Linked DNA regions of Homo sapiens: region 1 is linked to region 2. The links come from fine-mapping of genetic effects on gene expression. A gene starts in region 2. The other region holds a variant in brackets. All regions are shown on one strand. Distances are between the middles of the regions. Region 1 has its middle 31 kb from the start of ATP13A3-DT. Region 2 holds the start of ATP13A3-DT (ATP13A3 divergent transcript).

Region 1 (15,473 bases), 32 kb after region 2:
TTGTAATCCCAGCACTTTTGGAGGCTGAGGTGGGTGGATCATCTGCGGTCAGGAGTTCCAGACCAGCCTGGCAAACACGGCAAACATGTACTAAAAATACAAAAAATTAGCCAAGTGTGGTGGCAGGCACCTGTAATCCCAGCAACTCAGGAGGCCGAGGCGGGAGAATTGCTTGAACCTGGGAGGCAGAGTGCTTGCAGTGAGCCGAGACCGCACCACTGCTTTGTAGCCTGGGCAACAGAGTGAGATGCCATTTCAATAATAATAATAAACTATCACATGTAACCCCCAAATATGTACATCATTGTGTATCAATAAAAATAAATAAATGTGAATAAATGACTGAGAGTATGAATAATGCCATCCCTCCAGCGCCCTTGCACTGTGGTTCTCCAGCACCTGCTACTTAGGTTTCTTCAGATACCAGCTGCTCTGGGAGCTATACCTTGTTTCAGGATCTCAGTCACTGCCTTCAGCAGCCCACTATCTGATCCAAGCAGCCATGGATTCTCTTTTGTATCCAGTCACTCCTGTACCCTCTTCCCTTTTAGGTTTTGCTACTGTCTTCAAACTTGCTTTGAAGATTTGAGCTCCTGTGTCACCAGGTCACCCTCAGAGGCATCAGGACATGCTCTTCAAGTAAAGTCCAAATGAGGGATTAGACACTCTGGGCTTCATTTCTCAGTGTCCTCTCTCAAGAGCTAGACTATTACTTGCATTTCTCATCTCCTTGAATCATCAGCGCCTGGTGCTATCATTTAAAATAGGGAAAGTTATGAACTGGGTTAAATTTTTTTTTTTTTTTTGAGATAGAATGTCACTTTGTTGCCCAGGCTAAAGTACAGTGGTGCAATCTTGGTTCACTGCAACCTCCACCTCCCGAGTTCAAGCAATTCTCCTGCCTCAGCCTCCCAAGTAGCTGGGATTACAGGTGTTCACCACCATGCCTGGCTAGTTTTTGTGCTTTTAGTAGAGACAGGGTTTCACCATGTTGGCCAGGCTGGTCTCGAACTTATGACCTCAAGTGATCTGCCCGCCTCAGCCTCCCAAAGTGCTGGGATTACAGGCGTGAGCCACCACACCCGGCCTCAAAAAATATTTTTTTAGAAAGAAAAAAGAAAGAAACAAAAACAAATAAAATAGGGAAAGATGATTAGTAAGTCTCTTCCTTTCCAGGGCCTTAGTTTTCCTACCTGTAAAATACAGAGCATGGTATTTTTGGAGTCCATGAATCCACCAAGCACAGTATCATCTTTGCATGGTGCTTTAAAGTATATAAAACATTTTAGACAAACAAGATCTTATTTAACAAAAAAATGCCCAATAAATGTTTGCTAACAGAAATGATAATGCTGATTCTGTGTGAGCTGAAAGAAGCCTGTTGAAGGTGAATGTGTCGTCTATCATTAAGTCTGAGGACCAATTAAAGTTAAAACAAGTATGAGTCACTAAATGTTAGAATTAATTTTGAATCCCTTAGTTTAATTCCTACATGTTGTCAATGCCTGAGGGAAATGGTCTAGCCACAGGTGCCAGCTCATAAGAAACGGGAAGGCCAGGTACGGTGGCTCACACCTGCCATCCCATCATTTTGGGAGGCTGAGGCCAGCAGATCATTTGAGGCCAGGAGTTTGAGACCAGCCTGTGCAATGTAGGGAGATCTCTACAAAAAAGTAATTAGCCAGACATGGTGGTATGCACCTGCAGTCCCCGCTGTTTGAGAGGCTGAGGCAGGAGGATCACATGAGCCTAGAAGTTCGAGGCCGCAGTGAGCTATGAATGCACCATTGCACTCCAGCCTGAGCAATAGAGTGAGACCTTGCCTCAAAAATTAAAAAATAAAATAAATATAAAAATAAAACAAGAGAGAGAGGGCACCGTCTCTGTGGTACTATTTGGCTGTGTTACATAACTGGCATTTTATTTGGAAAAAAAAAATGTCCTCCAAGGGGTTCATTTCCTCAGATCAAATGTCATTCCAGGTGTTGGTATGCATTCGACGCGTGCATTCTTCAGCCCTGGTTATTCTGTTTTATTTTATGTAAAACTCTATTTCAAAATACAGGTCTTCCCAGAAGACTGGGTGCCCATTCTCCTTCAGGCTGTGCTAAATGGAAGGTGCTAAACACCTGCCTGAGGCCACGTCCAGGCCACACACCTGGGCAGGTGATGCTCCACCTCCTACCCCCAAGTGCACCCTCTGGGTAAACACAGGCTCTGCTGGGCCCCAGCCACCACCAAGTGTTCTGGTTTCACTGTTGCTAAGGATAGTGAACTTTTTAAAACAACCTTCCTTTCTTCTCTAATCTGGTAGAAAAACAAAAGCCCAGTCAGGAACCAACCAAGTGGAAGAGAGTGCAGCTGAATAAAATCAACATTGCACTTGGCTTTCTCTGACACCAGTTCCCAGAATCTCTTGAGTGATGGGAGGATCCATGCAGGGGTTGTTTTGGAGAGCCTGGCCAAGGGGTCTCTTGCAGGGCCTGAAGTCCAACATTTAAGGGAGCAGGAAAAAAGAAGAAGGAGGTTTCCTCTTCTCATATTGCTGCCTCTTCCCATCACCTCTCCTTGAACCTCAAGAAAAGGGCTGGGCACAATGGCTCGTGTCTGTAATCCCAGTGTGTTGGGAGGCTGAGGCAGGAGGATCACTTGAGGCCAGGAGTTTGAGACTAGCCTGGGCAACATAGTGAAACCCCTCCATTTCTACTTTAAATTTTTCTTTTACAGGCGGAGTGCGGTGACTCTCGCCTATAATCCCAGAATTTTGAGAGGCCAAGGTGGGCAGCTCACTTGAGCTCAGATGTTCGAGACCAGCCTGGGCAACATGGCAAAACCCCATCTCTACAAAAAATACAAAAATTAGCCAGGCATGGTGGTGTGCACCTGTAGTCCCAGATACCTGGAGGCTGAGGTGGAAGGATCACTTGAGCCTGGGAGGCAGAGGTTGCAGTGAGCCAAGATCACATCACTGCACTCCAGCCTGAGTGACAGTGAGACTCTGTCTCAAAAAAGGAAAAAAGAAAAGAAATTAAAATTAAATAAATTTTAAAAATCTTTTTTTCTTTCTTTCTTTCTTTTTCTTTTTTTCAAAGAAGTCTCCTAAGAGCCAGGCTATTAGCACTATCCTCCCTTTCAAGTGCTATACAGTGATCAGGTGAAACTGGAGAACATCTGAGTTGGGAGAGAATTCTAAGATCTCAAGTGTAAAAGCTTAATTTCACTGACTAAAAACTGAAGTCCAGAAAAGGAAAGAGGTTTTTGGCAAGGGGACACAGCCAACTGGTGGCAGAGCTGGCAATAGAACCCAGGATCCTTTTGACAACCCCCACCCCACATACACACATCCTCCCAAAGTGTGATCTTGCTCCAAAAAGCTAGCTTCTCTCCGAGTTTTCGCGTTTCTATCAGAAGCCCCCTCATCCTTTTCTTTTTCTCCCCCCTTTATGGCTATCTATCTTCTACAGGAAGGACAGAAGCCCTTTTCTTCTCAGTGAATAAGATTGGGAATCTTGGCCGCGCGCAGTGGTTCACACCTGTAATCCCAGCACTTTGGGAGGCCGAGGTGGGCAGATCCCCTGAGGTCAGGAGTTCGAGACCAGCCTGGCCAACATGATGAAACCTCATCTCTACTAAAAATACCAAACCAGCAGGGCATGATGGCGCATGCCTGTAATCCCAGCTACTCAGTAGGCTGAGGCAGGAGAATCGCTTGAACCTGGGAGGCAGAGGCTGCAGTGAGCCGAGATTGTGCCACTGCACTCAAGCCTGGGCAATAAGAGTGAAGCTCCGTCTCAAAAAATAATAATAATAAATAAAAAGATTGGGAATCTTGAGAAACTAAAAGAAAAGGGCAAATACTTAAAGAAAAAAGAAAAGACTGGGAATCTGAGAGTCATTCTTAGGTATTTTTGTTATCCCACGTGTGCAAGTAATGATTCCTATTGAGGCTTGCTTTAAAATATCTTACTCTCTATTCCACCCTTGCCTTCAGTCTGTGCCTGCTGCTGCCCCCTACCTCTGACCTCTCTCCAGGCCACCCGGTAGATAGCTAACATATTCATGATAACTTACAATTGTCATACACATACACGGCATCACTGTGCTGTGTTCTACATGTGTTACTTTATTCCTCTAAAAGACCCCATAAGCTGGGTGCCTTTATTACCCGCATTTTATAGATGAAGAAACTGAGGCTCAGTGCAGTTAAATAATATTTGTAAGATCTCACAGCAAGCAAGGAGCAGAACTGGGATTTTATTTATTTAACTTATTTATTATTATTATTATTATTATTATTATTGAGACAGAGTCTTGCTCTGTCGCCCAGGCTGGAGTGCAGTAATGTGATCTCGGCTCACTGCAGCCTCCACCTCCTGGGTTCAAGCAATTCTCCTGCCTCAGCCTCCCAAGTAGCTGGGATTACAGGCACACACCACCACACCTGGCTAATTTTTGTATTTTTAGTAGAGACAGGGTTTCGCCATGTTGGCCAGGCTGGTCTCAAACTCCTGACCTCAGGTGATCTGCCCGCCTCAGCCTCCCAAAGTGCTGGGATTATAGGGGTGAGCCACCGCGCCTGGCCGGAACTGGGATTTTAGAAGAACCAAGTGGTCTGGTGCCAAACTCCAAACTCCCAGCTGCTATACAATACTGCGTTTCTCTGAAGCACCCATACGACCATGTCACTCCTGTGCTCAAGTCTCTTCAGTGCCTCCCTTCTGACTGTGGTCGTTCAAATTCCTACTTGGGCATTAAAGGCTCTTCAGTGGTTTGTCTCTCGCTCTCCTGCAGGTAAGTTTATGCGCTTTGCTGTGTCTCACGTCCCTCCTCTATTACTTGAGTGTGATAATACCCTCTCATGAGGCTGCCACGAGGATTAAAGGAGGTCACTCAGCACAAAGTGACACAATTGGTGTTAGTGATCATTTAGTTACCTTTGTACTGTTTCTCCCAACTTACTTAGAGGACTCCTCTGACCAGAATGTTGCTGCAAATAAACAGTGCTTGTTGCTAAACTGAATGCGAATGTAAATTTTCCCTTCCTAGAAATGTTCCCCACTCCCATATGCCAACATCTCCAAATCCGTCCAAACCCAACCATCCTCCAATCACTCTACTTCACTGCCCCCACCCCCCCACTAATTGAAACTCCTGAGACACTTACTCTTTTTTTTTTTTTTTTTGAGGCAGAGTCTCACTCTTTCACCTAAGCTGGAGTGCAATGGTGCGTTCTCGGCTCACTGCAACCTCCACCTCCCAGGTTCAAGTGATTCTCCTGCCTCAACCTCCCGAGTAGCTGGGACTAGAGGCTCACACCACCATGCCCAGCTAATTTTTGTATTTTTAGTAGAAATGAGGTTTCATCATGTTGGCCAGGCTGGTTTCGAACTCCTGACCTCAAGTGATCTGTCCACCTCGGTCTCCCAAAGTGCTGAGATTATAGGCGTGATCCACCACGCCTGGCCTCGGGGACGTTTATTCTCATCATTCTTTTTTTTCCACACCACTATTTATTTACTCGTTTGTTAAGCATTTATCAAGTGCTTACTCTAATAATAACAATGCCTGTACAGACAGTCCCTGAGTTAATGGTGACTGACTTAATGATATTTTCAGTTGATGATGGGTTTACAGGGATATAACCCCATCTTACACTTGCTTGGTTATTTTTTTTTTTTTTGTCTTTTTTTTTTCCTTTCTGTGGAGAACGGCGTCTTGCTGTATTGCCCAGGCAGGTCTCGAACTTCTGGGCTCAAGCTATCCTCCCACCTCCTCCTCCCTAATAGTTGGGATTACAGGCATGAGCCACCATGGCCGGTGGACGTAACCCCAACTTAAGTCGAGGAGCATCTGTATTTGACTTGATACTTTACGAAGGGCTCCATACCACAGCTCTGCATCTGTAAATCCTCACAAAAGGCTTGGAAGGGGTTCCCATTTTTAGGCTGCCCTAGTTTTACCAGCTGGTGGTAAACCCTGGTGTCAGCACCAGCATTCCTGGGGATCCAGAGGTGATGCTGACAGGACCCCCGTCTTCAGGGCATGTATTGCTGGGTCTGTCCCGCAGACCCTGGCTGACAGATGAAATGAGTACTCAGACAGAGGTATGCAGTGTAAGAGCAGCTAGGCGACTGCCTGGCTCTAGTGTCCAGAGAGCAGCCCGAGAGCTGGAGCTGCTTGCTTTTATTCAGTGCAGGCACAATGACGAAAACCTGGAGCCAACACAACCTGCAGGTAATTAACATTTATCATTCCCTTTTCAGGCAACATCATGCACGCGGATGATCAACAGTCAGTTCCTGGTCAACATAAGTAAACAAGCCTGTTTAAGATAAATTCCCCCACACTCCCTTGTACCTACTCCTTGCCCTCTGCCCCAGGGTTATAGAACAGCTGCTTTCTGCTATTCTCCCCCCAGGCTCTGCAGAACCTTCTGACCTTTCAGAAGGTTTGCATCCTTTCCCTATAGTTTTTCCACCGCTCTGACCAGTCCCCCACAATATATAGCCTTGTATGCAAAGCCAGGCCTGTCCATGCAGGGTGACCATCCAAGGTAGACAGTGGCAAAATCTGGTGGAGGCATCAGAGATAGTGCCATCAGTTTGCTGGAACAAGCATATCAAGGAGCCTGGCAGATCTACACTTCACCAGACGGTGCCTGTAGCCAACAGGGCAGGCCCTTGCTCCAGGGAAACACTCAGAAATCAAAACTCCTTGCTCTGCTGCCAGGGAACTCTCCAGGAGATCCTCAGTGTCATCAGAAGCTGAAAAAAACAGTGCTGAGAAACGTGGCCTGCC[G/A]TCTTTCCAGCTAAGGGAGATGGCCCATTCGACCCTGGGTTGTCCTCTGCAAACGCGCTGCTGCAGGTTGCATGGCACCATCTCCTGATTGCAATTTGCTTTCCTGAGGGAGTGAACTGACTGAAATTGGATGGTAATAAGTTGCTAGGTTATTTTCCACTTTTTAGTTTATGAGGCTTATTCATTTTGCTTTAACATTAACCACTGCCTTCCTTTTAAGGAGCTGGTGAGGCAGCGCATGGCAACAGGTTCAGGGTGAGGAGTGGCACCACCTCCTTTCAGTGAGGATTTGGGAAGGGTGAAAAGCACCCTAATCTTCTCAGCCGCATGTGAACAAACCACCTGTCAAGGTGGGTCCTTCCTATAGGGAGGTTGATGTCAGCCCTTCAGGGAGGTCTCAGTTTTCTTCCTCCACTTCCTAATCCCTTCATTATAATTCCTTCCACAACAGAATAAGTTTCTTGAGCAATGCAGCAATATCCAGCAATTTTAGATAGACATTTACCTTTTGACCTAGAAATCTCACTTCTACGAATCCATCCTAAAGACACACTTTCAGCTGGATGTGGTCGCTCATGCCTGCGATCCTAACACTCTGGGAGGCTAAAGTGGAAGAATCTCTTGGGCTCAGGAGCTCAAGACCAGCCTGGGCAACATAGGAAGACCCTATCTCTAAAAAAAATAAAAATAAAAACGGCACACAGTCAAAAATTCAAAAATTAATATACATAAGGCTATTTATTACAGAAACATTGGTAGTAGCAAAAGACTGGAAATAACTCAATGCCCATCAATAGGGAACGGAGTAAATAAACTAAGATACCTACACATAATGGAGTGCCATGCAGCTTTGAAAGGAAATGAGGCATATTTCTATGTTATATGTTGTGATCACCAGAATATAACCTAATGAGTAAAAAGCCAGGTGAAGAAAATTCTGATAATATGCTATCATTGGAGAGGGGAATATGAATATACCATACATCACATAGGAGGAGAGAGGAAATAAAGTGAGAGGATTGGGATAGAAGCTAGACTTTTCTAAATATATCTTGTTTTATAGATTTATGTTGGAAGTTTGTGGATATAGTACTTTAGAAAAGTATAAAACCAAATTAGACTTGACAAAATGAAACAAGTCAATCTGTTGAGTTGATGGTGTAACTACACAGTGAGAAACTATTGCAAATGACCTTAACACTCAGGAATTCCACTGTATATTCCTAATGGGAGATCCCCTAATGACCAAACTTAAACCCAGTCCAACCAAACCAAAAAACCTTGTAAAATATCTGAAACCATTTTTAGTAATGAAATGAGAAATGTGGTCGTGTTGGTGATATGGTTTGGCTGTGTCCCCACCCCGACATCATCTTGAATTGTAACTCCCACAATTCCCACATGTCATGAGAGGAACCCAGTGGGAGGTGATTGAATTATGGGTGTGGGTCTTTCCTGCGCTGTTCCCATGATAGTGAATGACAAGATCTGATGATTTTAAAAACGGTTTCCCCGCACAACCTCCCTCTCTTGCCTGCCACCATCTATGTAAGATGTGACTTGTTCCTCCTTGCCTTCCGCTGTGATCGTGAGGCCTCCCCAGCCATGTGGAACTGTAAGTCCATTAAACCTCTTTTTCTTCCCAGTCTCGGGTATGTCTTCATCAGCAGCATGAAAATAAACTCATACAGTAAATTGGTACCAATAAAGTGGGGTGCTGCTGAAAAGATACCCAAAAATGTGGAAGCGACTTTGGAACTGGGTTATCAGGCAGAGGCTGGAACAGTTTGGAGGGCTCAGAAGAAGACAGGAAAATGTGGGAAAGTTTGGAACTTCCTAGAGACTTGTTGAATGGCTTTGACAAAAATGCTGATAGTGATATGAACAATAAGGTCCAGGCTGAGGTGGTCTCAGATGGAGATGAGGAACTTGTTGGGAACTGGAACAAAGGTGACCCTTGTTATGTTTTAGCAAAGAGACTGGTGGCATTTTGCTCCTGCCTTAGAGATTTGCAGAACTTTGAACTTGAGAGAGATGATTTAGAGTATCTGGTGGAAGAAATGTCTAAGCAACAAAGTATTCAAGAGGTGACTTGGGCGTTCTTAAACACATTCAGTTTTATAAGGGAAGCAGAGCATAAAAGTTCAGAAACTTGCAGCCTGACAATGTAATAGAAAAGAAAATTCTATTTTCTGAGGAGAAATTCAAGCTGGCTGCAGAAATTTGCATAAGAAATGGGGACCCAAATATTAATCTCCAAGACAATGGGGAAAATGTCTCCAGGGCATTTCAGAGGTCTTCATGGCAGCCCCTCCCATCACGGGACCAGAGGCCTAGGAGGAAAAAAATGGTTTCTTGGGCCAGGCCCAGGGTCTCCGTGCTGTGTGCAGCCTAGGGACTTGGTGCCCTGCATCCCAGCTACTCCAGCCATGATTAAAAGGGCCCAAGGTACAGCTCGGGCCGTGGCTGCAGAGGGTGCAAGCCTCAAGCCTTGGAAGCTTCTATGTGGAATTCAACCTGTGGGTGCACAGAAGTCAAGAACTGAGGCTTGGGAACCTCTGCCTAGATTTCAGAGGATGTATGGAAACGCCTGGATATCCAGGAAGTTTGCTGCAGGGACAGGGCCCTCATGGAGAACCTCTGCTGGGACAGTGTGGAAAGGAAATGTGGAGTTGGAGTCCCCACACAGAGTCCCAACTGGGGCACCACCTAGTGGAGCTGTGAGAAGAGGGCCACTGTCCTCCAGACCCCAGAATGGTAGATCCACCGACAGCTTGCACATGTGCCTGGAAAATCGGCAGACACTCAACACCAGCCCATGAAAGCAGCCAGAAGGGAGGGTGTACCCTGCAAAGCCACAGGGGCTGAGCTGCCCAAGACCATGGGAACCCACTTCTTGCATCAGCGTGACCCGGATGCGAGACATGGAGTCAAAGGAGATCATTTTGGAGATTTAAGACTTAACTGCCCTGCTGGATTTCTGATTTGTATGGGGACCAGAGCGCCTTTGTTTTGGCCAATTTCTCCCATTTGGAATGGCTGTATTTACCCGATACCTGTACCCCCATTGTATCTGGGAAGTAACTAACTTGCTTTTGATCTTACAAGCTCCTAGGCGAAAGGAATGTGCCTTGTCTCAGATGAGACTTTGGACTGTGGACTTTTGAGTTAATGCTGAAATGAGTTAAGACTTTGGGAGACTGTTGGGAAGGCATGACTGGTTTTGAAACGTGAGAACATGAGATTTGGGAGGGGCCAGAGGCGGGATGATATGGTTTGGCTGTGTCCCCACCGAAATCTCATTTTGAATTGTAACTCCCACAACTCCTGTGTGTCATTGGAGGAACCCAGTGGGAGGTGATCGAATTATGGGGGCAGGTCTTTCCTGTGCGGTTCTCATGATGGTAAATGAGTCTCACAAGAGCTGATCGTTTTAAAAGTGGGAGTTTCCCTGTACAAGCTGTCTCTCTTGCCTGCTGCCATTCATGTAAGATGTGACTTACTCCTCCTTGCCTTCCACAATGATTGTGAGGCCGTCCCAGCCATGTGGGACTGTAAGTTCATTAAACCTTTTTTTCTTTCCAGTCTTGCATATGTCTTTATCAGCAGCATGAAAATGGACTAATACAGTTGGTAAGACTGTTTTGCATGTATTATAGGATAAAGCAATGAGTAATTATGTTGTTTTGAAAAGTGGGATGTTTTACATCCCAGGTATGGATATAAGATCAATAAAGTTAAGTAGAAACACTTTAGTCTTACCTAAATTTGAAATAGAACTATTAGTAAGAATCCATAAAGTATTTGCTTGTAAAAAATTCTTTCTAGAAACCATCATCAATTCAAAAGCAAGCATTTCTTGCACACAGAATATGATCTCTAAATGCCATTTACTAAAAGAAAGCAGGGCTCCTTAGAAAAATGGCTGATTCCAGATCTGGGCTCCTGGGAAAGAAATGTACAAGATGAGCCTGGAACATCATATTATACACCTGATAATCAAGCATTTATCAAGAACAATAGGGTGATTTCACAAGGCAAATACCAGATATTATGTGCCTCCTGATGAAAAACATTAGTCATGAAGTAGTCTTGCCAAAATCCCTAACCTAAATCTGATCAACTACTCTAAATCCAACTTCTAGTTTACAGGAAATGTCAAGGACAGAGAACATGTTAAATCATACTGCTGGTTGCAATCACCAAAATTATTGCAGTGGCTCATGCCTATAATCCCAGCACTTTGGGAGGCTAAGGAGGGCAGATTGCTTGAGCCCAGGAGTCTGAAACCAGTCTGAAATATAGTGAGACCCCCATTTCTACAAAAAATTGAAAAATTAACCAGGCATGGTAACATGCACCTATGGTCTCAGCTACTCTGCAGCCTGAGGCAGGAGGATCGCTTGATACCAGGAGTTTGAGGGTCCCTTGAGCCATGATTGCACCACTGCATTCCAGCCTGTGTGACAGAACGATACCCTGTTTAAAAAAAAGAAAATATCACAAAGACTTAGTTGCCTATAGTCCTAGCTACTCAGGAGGATGAGGCAGGAGCATGAGGCTGGAGGATGGCTTGAGCCCAGGAGTTCCAGTCCAGACTGGGCAACATAGTAACCCCCTCCCTTAAAAAAAAAACAAAAACAAAAACAAAAAAACAGACTCAGTCAACTTGAAGAGGCCCCCACTAACCAAAGAATAAGATAATCTGAGCATCAATAAGAATTATAACTGTGATGAATTGAAGCTCATCAAATGTTTAAAACCATGAATTCATGCTTTTTAAAAATTAAATCTATTGGTCACTTTTGGTGGGTGCTAGGGATCCATTTGTTATTTTGAAAATTGGCAAATAAAGAGAGAGAAGCATTTATATTACCTTTCCAGTGACAAATATAGCTTATGTTAACTGCATAGACGATCAGGGAAACCTTTTTTGGATGTATTACAGCTATTAAACAGAGAAAGACTAGAAGGATTACAATATCACCATTTTGCCATCTTTAGTAAATTAACAGGCCTGGACTTTGATCATCAATGACGGTCAAAAGACAAATACATGAGTGCCTCCCGATGAGAAACAGTCATGAAGTAGTCTTGCCAAAAATCACTAACCTGTCTGGTCACTACTCTAAATCCAACTACTAGTTTACAGGAAATGCCAAGGACAGGGAACGTGTTAAATGATACTGCTGAATGCAGTCGCCAAAACTCAGATGGTGAGAAATTCCATGAGATAAATGACCCAGCTTCTTCAACAAATACATTACAAGCAGGAGGAACTTATCAAGTAAAAGGGATCCAAGAGGCATACTGAAGTCTATGGGTGAAAATGATGCCATGATATGATTTGCTTCAGAATAATCCAGGAAGGGATTAGTCATAAAATAAGATTAGCCATGAATTCTTTTTTTTTTTTTTTTTTTTTTTTGAGATGGAATCTCGCTCTGTCACCCAGGCTGGGGTGCAGTGGTGCGATCTCGGCTCACTGCAACCTCTGCCTCCCGGGCTCAAGCAATTCTCCTGCCTCACCCTCCCAAGTAGCTGGGACTACAGGCGTGTGCTACCACACCTGGCTAATTTTTTGTTTTTAGTAGAGACGGGGTTTCACCATGTTGGCCAAGCTGGTCTCGAACTCCTGACCTCAGGTGATCTGCCCACCTTGGCCTCCCAAAGTGCAGGGATTACAGGTGTGAGCCACTGCGCCTGGCCGAATTCTTAATTATTGAACCTAGGTGATAGAATCGTGGAAGTTTATGATACCATTCTGTCTCCTTTTATGTTAGAAATTTTCCATAGTGAAATAAATAAATAAATAAATAAACAAAAAGGAAACTAAAGACTGAAGCCACAGAAAAGCTAAACAAACAAAATAAAGACTTTCTCTCTCTTTTTTTTTGGACACAGGGTCTTGCTGTGGTGCCCAGACTACCTGGGCTGCAGTGCAACGGTGCCATCTCAGCTTACTGCAGCCTCAACCTCCCAGGCTCAAGAGATCTTCCCAACTCCTGAATAGCTGGGACTACAGGTTCGCGCTACCATGCCCAGCTAAGTTTTCCATTTTTTTGTAGAGACAGGGTCTCGCCATGTTGCCCGGTCTAGTCTCAAACTCCTGGACTCAAGTGATTCCCCTGCCTAGGCCACCCAAAGTGCTGGGATGGATTACAGGTGTGAGCCGCCATGCCTGGCCAGAAGGTGAATTTTGAAGTCAGGTCGACTCGGCTTCAGTTCTGGCTTAGCCACTCCATAACTGTGTGACAAGAGACAAGTTCTAGCTCTGAAACCCAATTTTCTCAGGAAAATGGTGACAGTACACACCACCGTTCCGTTGTATGAATTAAAGGTAACAGTTGGGCAATGCTTGGCAGAGCTCCTCGCACATAGTAACCACCTTTACTTATTGCTGGAGGGAAGGTTGTACACCCTTGGGCCTTTTCTCTTTTTGAAATAGCTGGTATGGAACTCAGGTGACAAGACTAGTGGAGGCAGGAAGAGGGACCCAGGAATTCTATCTTCCTATGGCTAAAAGGGGAAAAAGAAGCTTCCCCGCCTGGAATACTTCCTGAATCTTGCCCCTCCTCCCCATTTTTCAGGGCTCTTTTCTAGTTCTGCCTCCAGGCAAAATTAGTACCTCCTCTTTTTGCCTCAGCTTTTCCACAAGTCTATTTGAACACATCCTTTGACCCCTTTTATTGGTGTGATTTGAACCAGGCACAGTGGCTCAGGCCTGTAATCCCAGCACTTTGGGAGGCCAAGGCGGGAGGATCACTCGAGTCCAGGAGTTGGCGACCAGTCTGGGCGACATAGCAAGACCCTGCCTCTGTTTTAAAAACTTTTTTTTTTTTTGAGACAGAGTCTTGCTCTGTCACCCAGGCTGGAGTGACGTGGCGCAAACTCGGCTCACTGCAAGCTCCACCTCCTGGGTTCAAGCGATTCTCCTATCTCAGCCTCCCGAGTATCTGGAATTACAGGTGCATGCGACCATGCCCGGCTGATTTTTGTATTTTTAGTAGAGACGGGGTTTCACCACGTTGGCCAGGCTGGTCTCAAACTCCTGACCTCAGGTGATCTGCCAGCCTTGGCCTCCCAAAGCGCTGGGATTACAGGCATGAGCCACCGCACCCAGCCTTGAAAAAACAATTTTTTTAAGTAATTAAATATTAGTGTGATTTTTTTTCTGTTCTTCCTCCACTGTTCCCCAAGCTATAAACTTCCCTACAGGGCAAGAGTCTTCAAGATCTTTCTTTCTACCCAGGTGCCCAGAACAGTGTCTGGCACATTGTAGGCGCTCAAAAAAATGCTTACTGCCTCGGAAACCTGACCAGAAAAGGCCAACTGTATGTGGGGTGGGGAAGGGAATGAGAAGGGTTAACCTTTCTCCTCCACCTTCAGCTCTGTGTCAGATGATATACAAGTGGAGACTGAATCCCGTAGATTTATAGTGTGTTTTATGATGATATAAACAGAGCTTTTTTGTTATTATTAATCATCCCATTTATGCATTTCAAAAATCCACAAAAATTCATCATTAAAATTTGTTTCATACCTTCTCATCCTTTCTCTCAATAACGTAGCAGTGTTAGAATTTTGTCTCAATTCGTCATGGCCTTCAGGTAGCACTTGTCTGCTGGACACAGAGGGACAGGAATTCTCAACCTGAAGACTGCAAGTTTCAGCCACCTATGAAGTTTCAGCATCCTGATGTTGCAAAATGGTACATATACATGTGTACCTATATACATTTTTTTTTGAGACAGAGTCTTGCTCTGCTACCCAGGCTGGAGTGCAGTGGCATGATCTCAGCTCACTGCAACCTCCACCTCCCAGGTTCAAGCGATTCTCCTATGTCAGCCTCCTGAGTAGATGGGATTACAGGTGTGTGCCACCACACCCGGCTAATTTTTTATATTTTTGGCAGAGATGGGGTTTCACCACGTTGGCAGGCTGGTCTCAAACTCCTGACCTCAAGTGATCTGCCTGCCTTGGCCTCCCAAAGTGTTGGGATTACAGGCATGAGCCACCACCCCTGGCCCATATATGCATTTTTGGATAGGGTGATGGTCTGTGATTTTTCAGTCAGATGCTCTCATGGGTTCCTGACCTAACAAAGGAGAATGACTACATTCAATAGAAGAGGTGCAAAATAATGAGAAACACTAAGTGTTCACTGAGAACTCTTTCTTTTCTTTTTCTTTTTCTTTTTTTTTTTTTTTTTTTGAGACGGAATCTCACTCTGTCACCCAGGCTGGAGTGCAGTGGCGCGATCTCAGCTCACCACAACCTCCGCCTCCCAGGTTCAAACAATTCTCCTGCCTCAGCCTCCCGAGTAGCTGGGATTACAGGCATGCACCACCACGCCTGGCTAACTTTTGTTTTTTTAGTAGAGATGGAGTTTCTCCATGTTGGTCAGGCCAGTCTGAAACTCCTGACCTCAGGTGATCCACCTGCCTCGGCCTCCCAAAGTGCTGGGATTATAGGCGTGAACCACTGTGCCTGGCCTAGTGTACCCATTCTTTAAGGCCCCACTCCTGTCCCTTCTCCCTACCACTGTCCCTGCCTCTTACCCAACCAGTTGTCTTTCTCTCTTGTAAACTCCAACATTTCACATTTATCTCTTGTTATATGTGGCTAGTAACCATTGATCACCTTCCTTATGTTTGCTCATGTTTTACCTTCCC
Region 2 (15,473 bases):
TAACTTATCATTGCCACAACTATTAAGGGAACATGAAGAATAGTGAGTCACTATGGGCCGCACCAGAGATTAGAAAGGATTGGGGCGGGGGGTACTCTTTAAGATGCTTCTGAATCTGACTAAATTAATGAGCTTATTCTATTCTCTTCATCAAACACTGAACAGAAAACCATGGGTTAGCTTAAAATTATTCTTCAACTAACTCTAAGGCAGTGCTGACAATTATGAAAAGTACATTTTCATATCAAAAAGACCCATTAAATATTTCAATTAAGCGTGTGCTAGGTTAGTCTAGTCTTTCAAGTAAGTGCTACAGACAAAATTATGTCATTTGCCTATTGTACTTTACATTTTACTTAGTATACTAATCTACTTATTATAATTAGCATTAAATAGGTTTCTATCTTTTGTGCTTAGGAAAATTAGAAACATAAACATTAAAAAAAGGAGAAACAAGGAAACTACAGATGAAAATTGTAAATGAGCTTAGAAAACTGGTGACTTAAGAAGCTAAGGCATGATCTAGAGATGAATGAAAAATCTTTGGTCTAAAAAAATAAAGTAAAATAAAATAAAATTTAAAAAAAAGAAAAATCTTCGGTCTATAAGGAACCAGTGACTAGGATTCCATGTTTAAAGAAATCTAAAGGTCACAAAATTGAAATATAATTCAAAGTCTTCTTTAAAAAAAAAGTAGAAATATTTGACTAATCAGAATTTTTAAATGAAAATAATGCATATAAAGTCCTATAAAATAAATACAATTACAGATAGTTTTAAATTTTATAAGGTGGTCAGAGACAGAGACATTGGGTAACAGTAACAAGATGGGAGAGAAAACAGACTGCAAACACACCAGAGACACAAAGAGAAAAACTAAAATATACATAAAATGTATATCGGAGATACATGAGGTTAACATCTTGAGCTTTTGAGGATGTTGCTACTAAAGATACAAAATCATAGATTGTTTTGGACATAAAAAGCCTGAATATAACATTATTGCCTGCTGTTCCAGTTAACAAAAAAACAAAGAGCAATCATCAATCACACCCCACACACACATCTGACTTGTTTTGAATATCTTCAATGTTACTAAGTTAACAAATAATAAGTTACCCTTCACTCAGACTCTTATCCTTACAATTCTCTAAGGTACCCTTTATCACCTCTATCTGGCAAATAAAAAAGCTCTCAGAGGTTCAGTGACTTACTTAACCCAGACTACAAGACTGGTATGTGACAGAGCTGTAATTCAAAATCACTATGGCTCTGAAGCCCACATTTTTATCCAATACACCATGCCCTCTCCCAGGACATAAGACTGTTAAGTTTTTAGCCACCATCATGTTTTTACATACTCATGTTTTCTTACTGTGCTATCCCCAGAGTAATACTTAAGTTTAGATACTTTAAATTTCATGGAATCCATTAATAATTTACATCGCTCTTTTAAAACAATGCAGATCTTGCTAGCAGTAAGGAATAAATTTATTCTTTAAAAAAACAAAACAAAAACACTCAAAGTAGTTGAGTATCCCCTCAGAATGACAGACAGTACCAATAATCTCCTAATATTCTCAACTTTATTACCTAGCCTTTTAATTATACTAGATCTTTTTGTGGCATAACCTTACGGAGATAGCAGATGTTCATAAATACCTAAGTTATTTCTCCATTATTCACACTGTGGAGTCACATCATATATGCACTTAATTAAAACCAATTCAACTACTTACACTCTGGGGGGAAGCAACAGAGAAAAATAATTTGAATAATGATGATAGTATGCCTTCCTTTACATCCCTGTCCCAGAGTGAGCATGAAATGAAGACTATAAATCCGCTATGCTCAGTCAATCTAAGACCCATTCACCTGTCAAAACGGTCTCACACAGCTGGTGAGGATTCCAGCTCACCAAAAAAGGGACCTCTCTAAAACTACAGGAAAAACTGGACACTAGAATTGAAAGACAGAATGTCAGTTTCCAACCAGTTTTCAAACTGGTGCCTTTTTAAAAGACTTTTTCCAAGGGTAATTTTGACTACACAGGATTTTTATCTGAGAATTTAGGCCCAAAGGCCCCATGAGCAGTGATTGCACTTTATTCAGCTCTTTAGATCAATCAGAAAAAAATCAGGACCCAAAACACTTGTCTTTTATATCAAAATAAATAACTAAAATATATTTCATCCTATTTCACAAATGGAAAAAAAAAAAAACAGAGCAACAGGGATGCTATGAAGAAACCACCCTTAGACACATATGTGGGAGCAATTCCATGACTCATTTTAAACAAACTAAAAATAGTTTGTTTCAAGAAGTCTGTCAAGCAAGCAAAGGCAACCCTTAAAAGTTGGCTCTCACTGGAAAAAAAAAATGCAAAAGTTTTGAGATGTGCCATTACTACAGAGTACAAAATTAAAGCAAGGGTGAAAGGAACACCCAAGCTAGAGAAAGGATCTGGGGTTAGACCATAAAGGATCCTTTATGCTGTCACTTACTTCACTTTCCTCTTCTCTAAAAAGGCACTAATCTAAATAATCCATGATCTCTCCGCATTATTTTCCAGTCTCACACCTCTTTATTTCAATGTTCAACTCCTTTGTGAAAAAAAAATAAGAAAAACTCACTGAGCTAGAACCATCTTTCACCTTACCACCCAACATCAGTTACAAGTATTTTTACTTCAAACTTGAGAAAGATTCTGTAGACATCAGCAATTTCCAGACCACATAATTAGGAAATTCTACTTTACATACTTAAGTGACTTTTTCTGGAAATTTAATTTCTTATCTAACTAGTCTCTGAGTGTCAATTGATCATTTAAAACCAAGATCCACAGGGAGTAAGTGTAAGAATCAACAAAAAAGACAAAATTCTGATTAACAGATTAATTTTGCGGTCTTGACGTTTACTATTCGAGTTAATGTTTTACCATCTCAGACTCTAGCAAAGGTTCCAATATGACCCTGTGGGTCTAAGATGTTAACAGATATGGTATTGGCATAGTTCCCTCTAGAGAATCATTTTATGGAAACTTTTCAGCAATCACCATCCTCAAACAACCTTCCTCAGTGTCAGACACTTATTTGGACAGTTCTCTCCTTTATTCCGTTTTTCTCCCTTCTTACTGATTACCATAAAGTCATTTTTTAAACTATCATAACAGTGATCATTTTTTCCAATTACCATTTACTCATGTCATCTCATTTTACCTCTATTTTTAACCTGATTAATACAAATTATTTTTGGTTGTTTTAAGACAAAGTCTTGCTTTGTCACTCAGGCTGGTCTCAAACTCCTGGCCTCAAGCCATCCTCCTGCCTTGGCCTCCCAAAGCACTGGGATTTCAAGCATGAGTCACTGTGCATAACCTACTAACACAAATCGTTTTAACTCCTTTTATAATCACTAGTTATCTAGTGATAACTGATTAACTGTGGACCTTCTTCTACCTTACAAATATCTACTTTTCTCCAGATTAATTTGAGCCCAGAACTTTTTCATTTTTTTAAACCTAAATCTTAATTAAAATTATGTGCCAGAAATCTGAGCCTCTCTTACTTCTCTACTCTCAAAATATGATGTTCAACAAAACTCAAACGAGAACCTAACAATTTCCTTGCTTCTTGCATGCTATTTGAACTTAAGTGGTTAATTAGAACATGGTTTTGGCTGGGCAAGGTGGCTCATGTCTGTAATTCCTACACTTTGGGAGGCTGAGGCAGGAGGATCACTTGAGGCCAGGAGTTCTGAGACAAGCCTGGGCAACAAACCGAGATACTCATCTCTACAAAAAAATTTTAAAGGCCGGGCGTGGTGGCTCACGCCTGTAATCCCAGCAGTCTGGAAGGCCGAGGCAGGCGGATCACAAGGTCAGGAGTTCAAGATCAGACTGGTCAACATGGTGAAACCCAGTCTCTACTAAAGATACAAAAAATTAGCCAGGCATGGTGGTGGGCACCTGTAATCCCAGCTACTCGGAAAGCTGAGGCAGGAGAATCGCTTGAACCCAGGAGGCGGAAGTTGCAGTGAGCGGAGATCGCGCCTCTGCACTCCAGCCAGGATGACAGTACAAGACTCCGTCTCAAAAAAAAAAAAAAAATTTTTTTTTAAATTAGCCAGACATGATGGCACACACCCGTTGTCCCAACTACCCTTGTTGCTGAGGCAGGAAGGTCGCCTGAGCCCAGGAACTCAAGGCTGCAGTGAGCCATGATCGTGCCACTACACTCTAGCCTGAGTGAGAGAGCGAGACTCTTTCTCTGGGGGGAAAAAAAAAGAAAAAAGGACGGGGTGCAGTGATAAATGCCTGTAACCCTAACACTTTGGGAGGCCAAGGCAGGCAGACTGCTTCAGTTCAGGAGTTTGAGACCAGCCTGGGCAACACGGTGAAAACCCACCTCTACAAAAAAAAAAAAAACTAGCTGGGTGTGATGGTGCACACCTGTGGTCCCAGCTACTCTGGAAGCTGAGGTGGGAGGACTGCTTGAGCCCAGAAGGTCAAGGCTGCAGTGAGCCATGACAGAGCCACTGCACTCCAGCCTGGGAGACAGAGCAAGACCCTATCTCAAAAAAACTCAACATGGTTTTGACGACTACAGATTTACTCTCTCCATAGGCCAATTAGCTTCATTTTCACAAAAACTATGTTCCAAAACCAAGGCTAAATCCCATCAGCTACCTCTTGGATCCAGATGAGATATGGCATATTCAGAATACATTCAGAGGTAACACCAAGAAGAAATTTAATTTCTAATTTCTTCTGGCTACTCCAGGCACACTGCCTATCGAGCAGCCCTGTTCTGCAAGAAGCAGTATTAAAAAATGTTTTTAAAACTTTAAAAAATAAGAAATGTGATTCTAAGGAGGGAGAGAGAAGGGAGAAAAGGATGAGTACAACATATCTAAGAGTTAAACTGAGCTATATTTGAATGGATGATAAATGGAATAGGAGTTGGCAGCTTATCACCTATCAAAGAAAACAGTCAAAACAGTTCACAGTTGTGTGCTAAAAGAAGGTGATCTAGTGTGTGACACCTATTAAGATGACATATCTGATTTATCACCAGAATCTGAGGTTCAGAGATGTTATGTTGCCTAGTCACATACAACTAACCTTATAAACCCAGAGACAGAAACCTCTGTGTTAAGCACATTAACACAGAGCTAGGTTTCTGTCTGTCTTCAAAGTCGCTTATACTGTAAGCTCCTTAACTTCTTTAATTTTTTTTTTAACAAAGAAGAATATTGTTACCTGAAAGTGTTGAGGATTAGTTGAGACCATATGTAAAGAAAGGAGCACTTTTCCTGGCACATAATGGTTTCTTTCCTTCTTCCATTCCATATATTGAATCAAACTATGCTTGTATAACGTGGTGGTTTTGTAACTACTGTGAATATGAGGTTTTAGAATATGAATATGCTTTATTCCTAAGATAAATAGTAATCTTAGGACATAGGCACTATATCATATTACTATGGATATACAACCTACTCAATGGTCAAACTCAGTGAGAATAAGCAGTGATGGGGACGCCCTATGGAACTTTATCTTTATTCTGTCTTTTTTCTCAGTCTCAGTGATGTTGGAAATAAGAACTTTATACTTGTGAATGACAACAAAGTGGTTTATAATCTCGAAAATCTTGAAGACAGAAATAGGATTTCAAAATGAGCTCGATAATGTGGTTTATCCAAAGCGGATTCTGTGTGTTGTATATTTGGTGACCTAAACTAACTATGTAAGTATCAACCGCCAAGCTCGGTGGCTAGCGCCTGTAATACCAGCACTTTGGGAGGCCTAGGCAGGAAGATCACCTGAAGTCAGTAGTTCACGACCAGCCTGGCCAACGTGGTGAAACCCTGTCTCTACTAAAAATACAAAAAATTAGCTGGGCGTGGTGGCACACACCTGAAATCCCAGCTACTTAGGAGGCTGCGACAGGAGAATCGCTGAAACCCAGGAGGCAGAAGTTACAGTGAGCCGAGTTCACACCACTGCACTCCAGCCTGGGCAACAGAGCAAGATGCCATCTCAAAAAAAAAAAAAAAAATTTAAAGCAACCAAATAGTGTCACTTTTCCTACCCAATCCCCTGACCAAAGCCAGGCATTGTTGTTCTAACAAGGCTCAAAATCTCAATTATTTCACTCTCTGCCTGATCTAATGGTAGGATAATGCAAATCAAAGATACCAGCAAAAGTTATGTTCTACAACAATCATTAATAATAGGTTTACTACTTCGAACAACTTCCAAGCACTGATTTGCCTTAAAGGGGTTGCAAACCAGGATGAGATGCCCACACACATTGATTTTTGGCAACTGTAGTCTATTAAGCAAAGCAACAAACCTCTAGAGAAAATAATGTCACATATATTCCAGTGAAACAAAATTAATACATGTACCTTGGTAAAGAGGCTGAGCTCTAACCAAAGATAGAGCACTGTTCATTACGTACTCACCCTTCAAAGGAATCAAATCGAAACACTTTCATTTTAACAACGATACTTTTTAAAGGCTTTATTTTGCAATAATCTTTCAAGTCCCTGCATTTCTTAGATTCCTTAAATTCTAACTTCCTGCCTCATAGATCTAAAGTAGCCATGACATACCCAGGTATGTTCTACTCATTTAGTTAGAATCGTATAGAGGAACACAAGTCTGTTTCTAGGTGTACGACTCCACACCCATTCATTTTGCACTAATATAACCACTAAATATAGCTCTAAGACACTGATGATTAAAAGCGGCTAATTATGTGAGTGATTCATACCTCCTATGTCCAAACACCAAGATTCAGGGATGTCTGTCAGATCTATGGGAAGAGGAAACAATAAACACCTGTCACAAAGCTTCTTCCACACCGGGAAGCCCCCAGCTGAGTTCCTGCCAATCCCAACCCGATTCCCTCCCCCTTCATCCCTACCCCTCACCTCCCCAAAAAAGCCAGAGGTCATACTTCCACCAGAACCTGACTCTGTGAAGGGAATGGAGAGACAGAAAGGCCATAGCGAGAGTGGCCACGAGAGCACTGCTAGGGCAAAGGGCCCTGGGTTTTTCTAGTCCTCACTGCCACAGAGTCCGAGTGGGAGGCCTCAGGCAAGTCAGAAGTCACTTTTCCTCCACGGGACTCACTCCTTTTATCTGTGAAATGCGGAGATGGCAAGCAGCTCCATACTCCACGGCTGAGGACGAGCTAGGGTCCCGCACAGACTCATCGAGGGCCCTGCCAGCACCCCTACGCCTCTGCCCACAGGACCTCCACCTCCCACAGGACTTTCCGAAAGCTCTGACTACCAACCACCAAGCGCCCGGCCCCCACGCTCGCCCCCGGCAGGCGGCGCGTCCCCCCCAGGCCTTCGCACCCACCGCGTGGGCTCCTGCCCTGGCCTCACCTGCCCCCGACACTCCCCGTCCCCGCGATGCCCAACTCCGGCCCGAGAAGGCTGGCCGCGACCTCGCCCGGTACCCGCCGCCCCGACACCACCATTCGCCTCCTCGACCTCCCCCGGCGCCGCTGCCCACCCGCCCCTCGCCCCGCTCACCGGGGCCGCTCACTGGCCGCCGCCGCGCCGCCTCCTCCGCGGCCTCCCTCGCGGCCGGACCAGCCCCAGGGACCGCGGGGGACCCGGCCGCCGCTGTCGCCGCCGCCGCCTCGCCTCAGCCCAGCCCCATCGCCCTCGGCCGGCGCCGCGCGCTGCGGCTCAGGGTGAGGGAAGGAGGCGCCGCGGCGGGGCCGGGCCGGCCCTGGGACGTCCGCGCTCTCCTCCTCCTCCGCGCCCGCGGCGGCGGCGTGCAGCCGGCAGGGCGAGAACAAGGGAGGGCGGCGGGAGGTGGGCAGGGGAGGGGGGCGGTCTGCACTCCGAAACGGCCCCCCCGCCGCCAGCGACGTAGAGAACCCCCCTCCCCTCCGCGGCGGCGCCCGATCACGCTGCGGGGAGAGCCGGCAGGCAGGCGGGGGAGCGCGCGCGGGCTCAGGACTCCCGCGCCGGATGTGAGGTCACGTGGTGGCTTCATCCCCGCGCGGAGGGCGGAGGGGCGCGGGCGACGTCAGGAGGCGGGGAAGGGGCGGGGAGGGGCGGGGCGATTTATAGGCCCCGCCCACCCATCGCCTTTGCCACCCTCGAACGGGCAAAAGAAAGAAAGAGGCAGGTAAGGGGAGGCGAGGCCGTCCAAAAACGCTGGGTGTCAGCCCGGGGTGGCTAATGGAGGGCGGCTTTTCTGGTGGGATGAAATGGAACGGCAAATCCCACTTCATCCCCTTTGGGCTATGACAACATCATAGTCCAATCTCCCATTTTATGAACAGGGAAACTGAGGCTCAGTGACTAGACAGACGTTGCCCAGAGTCATGGTCATGGAGGAAGCTTGTGCTAGAATGGTGGAGAGGAAACCAGAGCCCAGCTCCTAATGCAAGGCTCTTTCATTCCTTTAGCCACCCTCGCCCCCGCCAAAACAAACAGACAAAAAACTGTCATTCTCATATGACCACGGACTCTGCGCCCCGGCCGCAGGCGGAGGACAGGGAGGAGCGCACACGAGAAAGCTCCCACGCGCCCGCGCCTCGCCTCCGACGGGAAGGCGCCTCTTCCGACCGTCCTGGATGCAAATTAAATACTTCCCTCCGCAGAAGACTTATCTCGGGGTAGGGCCGCAGCCGGATTTCCAAATCGCGGGTTTGATTTTCGCTGCGTCCTCTCCGCGACGCGCGCAGGGAGCGCGCCCGGCCACCTGCAGCCTCTGGCTGCGGCCATCTTTCCGCCTGGGGCCACCTGGCCTGCGCCCTTTGTGCCCGGCCCGCTCCGTGACTGTTCTTCTTGCCGCTACTTACAGAACTCAGCCGCCTTAGCGTCTTAGAGAAGAGGACGGCATGCATGCGGACCCCGTCCACCACACCTGGAGAGCAGGGAGCCCTTAGTCCCTGGACACTTACCAGGGCCGCCACCCCTGGTCCACGCACGTGATGACATCTCACCAGGGGCAGCACACCGCCCGAGTCCGCGACACTGATAACACCTCCTGCGGGCAGGAGGGCGCCACAGCCACCCCTGGTCCCCTAGATTGTGTGAGGCTAGCATTTCTGCCCGCCTCTTGGCGTGGACAGCACGCTGGACCGAGATGGAACCACAGCTTTCTCTTCCCAATCCCTGGCCTCACCGTTTTGTTTCATACCTCACCGTTTGTTTCAAACCTCGTGGTGTTGAAATGATTAAATGAGATTAAGGGGTGTGTGGTAGTGTTGGGCAAACCACAAGAAAACGGTCTGGGTGGGGTCTGGCCCTAAAATCTTCCTCCCCCACCTCCCAGGCTTCCTTGCCTTGCTGCTTCCTCTCAGCCTTTAAACAGGTTGGCCTCTCCAAGTCCTAAAAACAAAATTATCAAGCCAACCTCCTCCTGAAGTGCTCCCTCCAACTAGCTTCCAAGTGTTTCATGCGGACCTCAAACAATGGTCTTCCCTGGCTGCCTCTGCTTCCTCATTTCTCAACACTTGGCATTCTGGCTTCTCCTCCCCAACTCTAACCCTTCACCTTGCTCAGGCAAGAGCAACTCATGACTTTCATTTTGCCAAACCTTGCAGGCATTCCTCAGGCCTTATCTCTCTGGTTCTTTCTGCTACATTTGACACCTTGGGATGACTCTCACCTTCTGGAATCTCTCTACTACCTTGGTTTCAGAAGAGTGAACCCTCTGGATTATCACATGAAGGTAAGTAAAGCCTCTGCCTCCTTGGTAACATCTACTTGTGAATCTGCACCTTAAATTCAGGATTCCACTCTAAGCCAACAACTTTGCTCACTTCACTCATTCTTCTGGGATTGCCTGCATCCTCATGGATGCAGCTCCCAAATTAGCAATTTCCAACCCAGACCCCTTCCACAAAATTTAGAACCAAATATCCAATTGCCTGCCAGGCAGCTCTAGCTAGATATCACAGACACCCCAAACTGGACATTTCCAAAACTGAACTCATTCTCTGCTTTCATAGCTGCCCCTCCCTCAGCTGTTGGCACCACCATCTCCACAGTCATCAGAATTAGAAAGTTGGGAATGAGTGAGTCATTCTTAATTCAGCCCTCTGCCTTACCCAATCACCAAGTCCTATCTATTTCACCTCCTTAATAAGCCTCAAATTCCTATGGTGGGCTGGGCGCAGTGGCTCATGCCTGTAATCCCAGCACTTTGGGAGGCCGAGGCTGGTGGATCACACGAGGTCAGGAGTTCAAGACCAGCCTGACAACATGGTGAAACCTCATCTCTACTAAAAATACAAAATTAGCTGGACGTGGTGGCACATGCCTGTAATCCCAGCTACTTGGGAGGCTGAGGCAGGAGAATCGCTTGAACCTGGGAGATGGAGGTTGCAGTGGGCTGAGATTGCGCCATTGCACTCCACTCTGGCCAAGAAGAGCAAAACTCCATCTAAAAAAAAAAATTCCTACGGTGGTTCCCACTGGCATCCATCCTTTCCAGCCTGAATTGTTAGACAAATTCAGCCTTCAGAGTGAACTACAATGCACTCCATTTAAAATCCTAAGAGTTTCCCTAGGCTTCTGGCTGCAGTGTATACCTCCAAGCTACCCAGCATGAACCTGTCAACGCGTTCGGGCTTTTAAAAGATCACAAAGAGCCCCAGAATTCGAGGTGCAGCCAAAGTAAGGCAACATACAGCCAGTCAAGGGAAAGCTATAGGAAAAAGAGAAAAGCAGTTGGATATTCCAAAAACTTTTCTGTTACAGATGTTTTGAGAATGGTGAAAAAAGGAATTTGGACACTGGCTTTAGAGGAAGTGCTGAGTCACCAGGAAAGGCTTGAGCATGTTTATGGGTTGAGGGAAAAGAAGGTGCAAGAAAAAAGGAGAAACCCAAGATAGGCGAGAGAAAGGGAGTGGAACAGTCTGGAGAAGTCCTGGAAGACTTACTGGTTCTCAAGTCATGATGATTCTGGGTCCAAGCCCACTGCTTCCCCCCTCTGATCCTACTCACTGTAAGCACCAACCCTGATTGCAGCTGCATGGAGGTAACAGTCATACCAGTAAGGTCTGACGTCACTTCTCAGAAAGGCTATTTTGCATCTTCTTCATCCTCAAAACCCCCATCTTTGCATGCCCTTCCCTCTCACTGTCCCCTTACTTCCTATTTCACTAAGAAAACATACACCATCAAGAGGAAAAATCCTCATCTTCCCACCCGCAAATCTGCGCATCATCCTACATCGGCCCCAGGATCTATTTTCCCACTCCAGAGAGGCAAAGCCTCCTCCTAACAGAGCTAGCTCTCCACAAAATGACCACTGTTAGGCCAACTCCAGGGGCTAGGCCTCCCCAAAATATTACTGTTGCCAAATCCGGAGGACACTTTGCAGGCCTTATCTTTCTAGTTCTCTCAGCAGCATGCATCTCCTATCCTTGAGACACTTTGCTGTTAGTTTTGATAACATACTCTATTTTGGAATTCCTCCTCCCTGTTTCTCTTTGTCTACTCCATCTCAGCCTCCGCAGGTGCTTCCTCTGTCCTTCTCTAAATGTTGCTGTTCCCCAAGGCTCAACCCAGGATCCATTCCTGTGTCTACACAAGGTTTGTTGTGTTTTTGTTTGTTTGTTTGTTTTTAATTTGACATCTCTTGACCTTACAAGAGTTGTGGATGGGCTTCAGAAGGATCTATAAGCTCCTTAAACTTGGATGCAAATACTTTTAAAGGAAGAAGTGGAGCTTTTAGCAGCTTCTCAAAGGTGTCTGGGTCCCCCAAAAAAGATAAGAGGACTGATCCACATGCTCTCCCCTGGTGGCCTCATCTACTATGGCTATAGCTGTCATCTGCATGTACATTAATAACTGTAAACTGAGGCTGGGCATGGTGGCTCACGCCTTTAATCCCAGCAATTTGGGAGGCCGAGGCGGGCGGATCACCTGAGGTTGGGAGTTTGAGATCAGCCTGGCCAACATGGTGAAACCCCATCCACTAAACATACATAAATTAGCCAGACGTGGTGGCGTGCGCCTGTAATCCCAGCTACTTGGGAGGCTGAGGCAGGAGAATCACTTGAACCCAGGAGGCAGAGGCTGCAGTGAGCTGAGATGGCACCATTGTACTCCAGCCTGGATGACAGAGCAAGACTCTATCTCAAAAAGAATGTCAACCATATGCCTGCAGCCCAGGCCACTCCTCAGAGTCCCTTGGCCATTCCTCCCTATCATTTTCACATGGGGTTTCACTGGTGCCAGATAAGTTCACTTATCCCAAACTTAACTCTTGCCTTTCTTCCCCAAATCAGCTCCTCTCTCCTGGGCCTCCTGACCTTAGCAAAGACGCTGTCACCCAAACAACTGCTGAAGCCCAAAACCTGGGAGTCATTCTTTACACCTCCCTCTCCTTCACCACCCCATCCAATCCAACACCAAGTCCATTTCAAATCCTTCCCCATTGCTCCATTTCACTGCCACTAGAATAATGCATGCCCCCTCATCTCTCACCTCGCACGCCCCCTCCATCTCTCACCTGGCATGTCCCCTCCACTCTCACCTGGCATGCCCCCTCATCTCTCACCTGGCATGCCTCCTCATCTCTCACCTGGCATGTCCCCTCCATCTCTCACCTGGCATGCCCCCTCCATCTCTGACCTGGCATGTCCCCTCCATCTCTCACCTGGCATGCCCCCTCATCTCTCACCTGGCATGCCTCCTCATCTCTCACCTGGCATGTCCCCTCCATCTCTCACCTGGCATGCCCCCTCCATCTCTGACCTGGCATGTCCCCTCCATCTCTCACCTGGCATGCCCCCTCATCTCTCACCTGGCATGCCCCCTCATCTCTCACCTGGCATGTCCCCTCATCTCTCACCTGGCATGCCTCCTCCATCTCTCACCTGGCATGCCCCCTCATCTCTCACCTGGCACTAGTGCATTCGCTCCCAGTGGGTTCCTCTGCTTTTGCCCTTGCCCACCTCCAGTGCATTATCACACAGCAGCCAGAGTATTAGTTTATGTGACTTCAAGCAGAGCTGCTGATAAAAGCTTTCACTTGCTTCCCACCTCACTTGGAATACTAGATGAACTTCTTGGGTCCACAAAGTCCAGTGCAGGATGTAACCTGCCCACCACTTCCCCCTCCACTGGCACTCCTCTGCTCTCCCCGTCTTCTCACCGCAGACCCCTTCCCCAAGTTACTCCAGCTACACTAGGCCTTCTTTCAATTCCTCAAACGCACCAACCTCTTTCCTGACTCACGGTCTTTGTACAATCTATTCTTTCCCTTCCCTTTTTTTCTTGCCTGACTAACTTATAAGTTCAACTTTGGGCTTAAATGCATATACAGTTGTCCCTCGATATCTACAGGGAATTGGTTTCAGAACCTCTGTGGATACCAAAATCCAAAAATACTCAAGTTTCTTGGATAAAAGGGTATAGTATTTGCATATAACCTATATACATCCTCCTGTGTACTTTTTTTTTTTTTTTTGAGACAGAGTCTCGTTGGGTCACCCAGGAGTACAATGGCATGATCTTGGCTTAGTGCAACCTCCGCCTCCTGGGTTCAAGCAATTCTCCTGCCTCAGCCTCCCAAGTAGCTGGGATTACAGGCATCCGCCACCAGGCCCAGCTAATTTTTTGTATTTTTAGTAGAGACAGGGTTTCACCATGTTGGCCAGGCTGGTCTTGAACTCCTGACCTCAGGTGATCCACCTGCTTCAGCCTCCAAAAGTGCTGGGATTACAGGCATGAGCCACCACAACCCGTGATCTATACTTTAAATCATCTCTAGATTACTTATAATACGATGTAAATTCTATGCAAACATATTTTTATGTATAGTATTTTTATTGTGTTGTTATTGTATTTATCTCAAGGCTGTGGTTGTATGACACTTATGTAAGATTGAAAAAATAATGGTTGTTTATTTTTGTAAATGTGAGAAGGACTTTTGGGATTATGGGAAACAGGCACATAAAATATCCTTCTCACCCGGGCACAGTGGCAGGTGCCTGTAGTCCCAGCTACTTGGGAGGCTGAGGTGGGAGGATTTCTAGGATTGCCTAAGCGCAGGAGTTTGAGTTTATGGTGAGCTATGATTGTGCCACTGCACTCCAGCCTGGGCAACATAGTGAGATCTCAGCTCTTAAAAAAAAAAAAAAAAATCCCCCATCCCCACCCAAACCATCTCTTTGTGCTGCTACTGGTAAAGAATAAGTCAGTTTGGCTTATCACTGTAGACCCAGCACTAGATGAAGCCTGGCATGTGATAGACACTCAAATGTTTGCACCTGATGGATGACTGAATGAATGAATTTACGATCTCAGATATCATCTCTAAATGCCTTCCCTGACTCCCAGGCTAAGAATCCCTCTTTAGCTGAGCGCACGGCTCACCCCTGTAATCCCAACACTTTGGGAGGCCGAGGCAGGTGGATCACTTGAGGTCAGGAGTTCGAGACCAGCCTGGCCAACATAATGAAACCCCGTCTCTACCAAAAATACAAAAATTAGCCAGGTGTGATGTCAGGCACCTATAATCCCAGCTACTCAGGAGGCTGAGGTGGGAGAATCGCATGAACCCGGAGGTGGAGGTTTGCAGTGAGCTGAGATCACGCCACTGCACTCCAGCCTGGCAAGACTCCATCTCAAAAAACAAAACAAAAAGAATCCCTCTTTAGTGCATATTTGTCTCACTGCATTTACAACCTTGAATAAGCACCTATTTAGTGTTTTTGTTTTCCATGAGTCTACCTTATTCATGTTTTTTTCCTAAGGTTCTGAATACTTTCATATGTTATCTCATTTAATCATCACAACGATGCCAACACTAAAAGTAGTAGTGACTATTCTGTTCATTTTCATAGACGAAGAAACTTTACATATATGATCTCATTAACCTTTATAACAATTCTAGGAAGGAGGTACTATTATTTCTGTTTACAGATTGAGGAAAGCTTATTTCTGCTTACAAATTGAGGAAGATTATTTCTGCTTACAAATTGAGGAAAGCTTAAAAATCCCATTTTACAGAATGGAAAAAGAGGTGTTCAATAACTCACCCGAAAGCACAGCCAGGATTCAAACCCAGACACTTTGCTCCAGGGCCAAACTCTTGACCACTATAACCAAATGAAGCCAGAGTGATTCACCAGAATGAGTTCATCTCGCATCAAAACTCTGGATTATCTGTTTAAGCACCCAGACTTCCACCTCCTCATGAGCCAGGACCTTCCTCAGCCACATCTGGATCCTCAGCCCCTCACAGCACACAGCGGTAGTCAGAAAGTATGCTGAGTAAGTGGAGAACAAGTTAACATTGATTTTCACAACCACGATGTCAGACTAGCAATGGAATTGTTTTGATTCTCCTTTTATAGAGAAGAAAAATGAGATTCACAACTTCACAAGAGGGAGTGTCTTATCTAAGAATCTCTGACTGAGTTCAGCCCTTGTTTGTATTCCCTCTGCTGCCTCCACAAAAGGTTAGAGGTCACATG

Evidence for each region.
Region 1: its variant is fine-mapped to the expression of ATP13A3-DT in tibial nerve (GTEx, PIP above 0.99). The same link has a PIP of 0.9 or more in lymphoblastoid cells.

Annotation. Positions count from the first base shown.
Region 1 is chr3:194,510,808-194,526,280 of GRCh38, forward strand. No RefSeq gene overlaps it. Among named protein-coding and RNA genes, the nearest start is that of ATP13A3-DT, 31 kb to the left of the region's middle. RefSeq lists an enhancer at 9,973-10,267. The variant G/A (reference allele first, on the strand shown) is at 6,799.
Region 2 is chr3:194,479,015-194,494,487 of GRCh38, forward strand. ATP13A3-DT (ATP13A3 divergent transcript) reads left to right here and starts at 8,126. Exons shown (of 2, transcript NR_033929.1): 1 at 8,126-8,158; 2 at 8,442-9,531. It overlaps ATP13A3 (ATPase 13A3), which reads right to left and starts at 7,988. Exons shown (of 34, transcript NM_001367549.1): 1 at 7,552-7,988; 2 at 6,780-6,821. RefSeq lists silencers at 7,228-7,287, 7,378-7,427, 7,458-8,117 and enhancers at 8,788-9,007, 11,141-11,260, 13,012-13,121, 13,132-13,181, 13,222-13,271.